2 separate regions of the Homo sapiens genome follow, and region 1 is linked to region 2. A link means that fine-mapping ties the variant in region 2 to the expression of a gene that starts in the linked region. Tissue or cell type: whole blood. Region 2 holds a variant in brackets; the other region holds the start of a gene. All regions are shown on one strand. Distances are from middle to middle.

Region 1 (2,500 bases), 80 kb after region 2:
CTTCCGGGCTCCAGTGATCCTCCTGCCTCAGCCTCCCAAGCAGCTGCGACTACAGGAGTGCGCCACCATGCCCGGCTAACTTTTTAAGTTTCTGTAGAGACGAGGGGGGGGTCTCCCTGGGTTGCCCAGGCTGGTCTCGAACTCTTGGGCTCAAGCGATCCACCCGCCTCAGCCTCCCAGTGTTTGGATTACAGGCGTGATCAACGGCACCTGGCCTAAAATTCCCCTCTCTTAAGGGATTCCTGGGAGGATAAATTCATTGAACACGTATTTATTAAATACCTACAGCATGCCACACAGTATTAGGTGCTGGGGAGTGGAGAGAACGTAATTTATATCCTATCCTATTATACCCTTCCTGAGACTTGCAGAAATTAAGCGTGTTCGGTATTGACACAGAGCCTCCCTCTTGCCACAGACGGAAAACTGAGGCCAGAAAAGGAGTGGGGTTCGTGGCCAAGGGAACCCACTGGGCAGAGGCCAACAATTCAAGTGCTTCTGAAACACAGGCTGAGACATTCTCGAACCTTCTGGGCTCTCACTGTCCCCACCCCGCGACTGTTCGGGATATTGGGGGAGGGGAAGCCTTAGGGTGGAGGAGCCTTAGGTCCCTTTACAAAGCTGACCCCCAGCCCCTTCCCCAGCGGAGCCCCGGAGTCGGGGGTTCGAAATTGACACACACTCGTCTCAGCCCCACCTTTTATAACCCGAGATGCCCAGCGTGTCACAAGTCGAAGACGGGGCCTAGGGACGACCGCCCTCTGTTTTTCGCCCCTCCGTACGCCCACCCCACCCACATACAGGGGCTCCCTTTTCCCATACAAGGGCTCCCATGGGTCCTCTCCCCGGGGCTCCCTGACCCCGGCTCCGAGAATCGGGTCCCGGCGGGGGTCGGGGACGGGGGCCGCTGGCCGCTGGGCTTACCAATAAACGACTCGGACGGCGAGAGCCATGGCTCGGGGCTGCCACATCCGCTGAGGAGCGGACGCCCGGGCCACACTAACCTCCCACCTGGACGCGCTAGGTCTGCGCGAGTGCGGCGGGAACCTGCGCAGAAAGGATGGAGCCTCGGCTTCCCCTGGCGCCAACCAATGCCAGGGAGGGGCGGTGGGCGGTGGGCGGAGAGGCGCCAAGGCGGAGGATAAGGAACCCGCGACCCGCCAGCCCGAGGCCCCCACACAAGTCTCCTTCCCATCCTCCTGTTGGGCTGGAGAGAGTCTCGATACAGGCAGTCCCCGGGGGAAGCCCTCCGCGCGTCCCCTCCCAGGTCCCCCCGGCCAGAATGGTACGGCCCACGGGGGCGGTGATTTACGGCTGGCCGCTCCCAGCTGGACCCGGAATCAGCCTCAAGGGTGGTCTTTTCACTGCGTGGGCTTGGGGACGGCGCGGTGGGGACAGAAGCAGGGCGCGATTCTTGAGTCCCTCACCTCCCCTGGAGAGGGCGAGGGGGCGAGAGGGGAAGGATTCGGGGTAGACCAGGTGAGGGAGGAGACAGGGAGTTGAGGGGGAGGTTTTCAGGGAGCGGTCCAGGGCCCACAGTTGCCTTATAAAGACCTGCAGCCGCAGGGCGCGGTGGCTCACGCCTGTAACCCCAGCGCTTTGGGAGGCAGAGGCAGGAATTCAAGACCAGCCTGGGCAACATAGCCAGACTGCGTCTCTACAGAATAATAATAATAATACATTAGTGGCTGGGTGCGTTGGCTCACGCCTGTAATCCCAACACTTTGGAAGGCCGAGGCGGGCGGATCACTTGAGGTCAGGAGTTCAAGACCAGCCTGGCCAACATGGAGGAACCCCGTCTCTATTAAAAATACAAAAATTAGATGGGCGTGGTGGCGCGTGCCTGTAGTCCCAGCTACTCGGAAGGCTGAGGCAGGAGAATTACTTGAACCTGGGAGGCGGAGGTTGCAGTGAGCCAAGATCAGGCCAATGCACTCCAGCCTGGGTGACAGAGCGAGGCTCCACCTCAAATAAATAAATAGATAATAAATCAGCCGGGCGTGGTGGTGTGTGCCTACAGTCCCAGGCTACTTGAGAGGCTTAGGCAGGAGGCTCGCTTGAGCGCAGGAGTTTGGAAGCTGCTGTGAGCCGTGATTGCACCACTGCACTCCAGCTTAGGCCACCAAGCAAGACCCTCTCTAAAAAAACAAAAGGCCTGCTGCGGCTGGGCACGGTGGCACATACCTGTAATCCCAATGCTTTGGGAGGCCGAGGCAGGAGGACTGCTTGAGCCCAAGAGTCTGAGACCAGCTGGGGCAACATAGCAAGACCCCATCTCTACAAAAACTTTTAAAATTAGTCCGTGTGGTGGCATGTACCTGTACTCCCAGTTACTGGGGAGGCTGAGGTGGAAGGATCACTTTAGCCCAGGAGTTTGGGGCTGCAGTGAGCCGTGATTGTGCCACTGCCACCCCAGCCTGGACAACAGAGTAAGACACTGTCTCGAAAAAAGAAAGAAAGGAAAAGGCCTGGCCAGGCACAGTGGGTCACACCTGAAATC
Region 2 (2,758 bases):
GATCCTCCCACCTTGGCTTCCCAAAGAGCTGGGATCACAGGCGTGAGACTCTGCGCCCAGCTGCATGATTTTTCATTTCCCAGACACCACTAAGTTCTCCCCCGTCTGCAGGACAGGAAGCCGCCCGCACAGGCCCAGCCCTTCTCTGGCTGCCCAGATTTGCACTCTGCAGCCTCAGCCACAGGATCAGCCCAGGCCCCTCACACCTCTGTCCCTGCTCACCTTGGAGATGACCAGGGTCTTGCATCCTGAGTCCTGATCTGTTCCCAAACACAAGTGTGTACTGACAAGGGCTTGGCTCTTAAATCACTTCTCTGCTGTGCCCACCCTGGCCCACCCTGCCAGGACCCTCCGTTTCCCACCCTGCCCTGCAGTCCCGCCCCCTGGAGGAGTTGAATGGTGGATTAATCCCTCATCACTGATCAGGTACTGCCTGCTGAGCTGTGCTAGGAGCTGGGGAACCTCAGTGGACAACACAGCCTTGGTTTCACCCTCATGGGCCCTAGCCCAGGCGAGGTGGTATTCCACATGGGATCGGGGGAGTCAACATCATGACCTGTGGTTGGGGTCCCCATCTCAGGAGAGGCACCGCCAGCCAGCCCCCAGGAGTCATCCTTATTCCTTCCCAGGGCTGGGGCCCCACATGATCAATGCCAGCGAGTCTACCCACTCCTCCCGGCTCCCGGGCTGCCCGCCTTGTCCAGTCACCATCCCTCTCTCCTGGATGACCCCACAGCCTCCTCTTTGGTCCTTTGAGGCCACTCTGGCCCCTACTAGTCATTCTTGAAGTTTCCTGCTCCCCCAACCAGGAGGGGACACAGGTCTGATGGACATTTCCATGGACTGCTACTGATGTATGCAGGGGACCCATTACCTTGGTTCACACAAGTCAGGTCCCTCAGAGATGCATCTGCTGTGTCAGACCCCTGGCTGCCCTCATCTCCTCATAGCAGGACCCACATGGGTTCAGGGGTCAAGGAGATTGACAAGGCTCATGATCCAGGGAGCTAAAAATGACTCATGCAAGGCTGGGCGCGGTGACTCACGCCTGTAATCCTAGCACTTTGGGAGGCCGAGGCGGGCAGATCGCCTGAGGTCAGGAGTTTGAGACCAGCCTGGCTAACATGGCAGAACGCCGTCTCTACTAAAACTACAAAAAGAATAGCCGGGCCTGGTGGCAGGCACCTGTAATCCCAGCTACTTGGGAGGTTGAGACAAGAGAATCACTTGAACCTGAGAGGCAGAGGTTGCAGTGCAGCCTGGGTGACAGAGGGAGACTCCGGCCCCCTCCC[A/C]AAAAAAAAGAAAAAGAAATGACTCATGCAACCAATTTCAAAATTCAATAAAACGTAGACATTGTTACCACGGGCCTCGCTCATTGTTTTCACCTGCTACTTAGAGTTCTATTGTAGAAAGCAGCATCCCCAGCAATGATTCCTCATTGCACACATTGTCCGGCTTCATCTACAGGACATGCTGGGAACACAGTAGTGACCACAGAGATTTTGCACCGTGGCTATTTATTTGGCCAATAAAGACATAAGCAGATGAACAAGCTCACTGGTACTATTTTGTGAAGATAGACATTTAAATATAAGAAAGTTCTGCCGGGCGCAGTGGCTCACGCTTGTAATCCCAGCACTTTGGAAGGCCGAGGTGGGTGGATCACCTGAGGTAGGGAGTTCGAGACCAGCCTGACCAACATAGACAAACCCCATCTCTACTAAATATACAAAATTAGCTGGGCATGGTGGCACATGCCTGTAATCCCAGCTACTCGGGAGGCTGAGGCAGGAGAATTGCTTGAACCCAGGAGGTGGAGGTTGTGATGAGCCAAGATCGTGCCATTGCACCCCAGCCTGGGTAACAATAGTGAAACTCTGTCTCAAAATAAATAAATAAATAAATATAAACTGAAACAAAACAAATAGTGGCTGGGCATGGTGGCTCATGCATGTAATCCCAGGGCTTTGGGAGTCAAGGGGGGAAGATCACTTGAGGCCAGGAGTTCGAGACCAGCCTGGGCAACATAGCGAGACCTTATCGCTACAAAATATATTTTAAAAAAAAACAAAAAACTAGCCAGGTGTGGTGGTATGCACCTGTAGTCCCAGCTACTTGGGCTGCTGAGGGGGGTGGATCGCTTGAGCCCAGGAATTCGAGGCTGCAGTGAGCCATGATCAAACCACTGCACTCCAGCCTGGGCGACAGAGTAGAGACCCTGTCTTGGAAATAGATAAATAAATAAATTATAAAACAAATAGATGGTATGTTTACAAGTTCCCTGCACGCTCTTAAAAGGTTGCTTAGTATCTCACTGTGGCATTCTTCCATCATTGTATCTATATTCTGCTTCCTTTCTGGAAACATTTTACCATAATTGCACATTTTGTTCGGCTTTTAGGTGGCTGGGAACACATTATTCACCAAAGCAGATGATGGCCCTGCTGTCAACAGGAATGATCTCACAGTTTTCTTGGTCTATAAGATGTGAGTAGATGGTCCCCCTCTCTATAATTTCTAAAATAAATTAAATGTAAAACTTTGCATATTTGAGGCCAGGCGTGGTGGCTCGTGATTGTAATCCCAGCACTTTGGGAGGCTGAGGCGGGCGGATCAAGAGGTCAGGAGTTTGAGACCAGCCTGGCCAACATAGTGAAACCCCATCTCTACAAAAAAATACAAAAAAATTAGCTGGGCGTGGTGGCGGGCGCCTGTAACCCCAGCTACTTGGGAGGCAGAGGCAGGAGAGTTGCTTGAA

The links. PIP is the estimated chance that this variant, and not a neighbour inherited with it, causes the effect.
Region 1: SELENOW starts here. The variant in region 2 is fine-mapped to the expression of SELENOW in whole blood (INTERVAL, PIP 0.99).

Annotation. Positions count from the first base shown.
Region 1 is chr19:47,777,239-47,779,738 of GRCh38, reverse strand. It overlaps SELENOW (selenoprotein W), which reads right to left and starts at 1,036. Exons shown (of 6, transcript NM_003009.4): 1 at 925-1,036. The coding sequence starts at 953. RefSeq lists silencers at 739-878, 889-1,148.
Region 2 is chr19:47,856,736-47,859,493 of GRCh38, reverse strand. TPRX2 (tetrapeptide repeat homeobox 2) reads right to left here and starts at 259. Exons shown (of 3, transcript NM_001397347.2): 1 at 223-259. The coding sequence starts at 247. The variant A/C (reference allele first, on the strand shown) is at 1,293.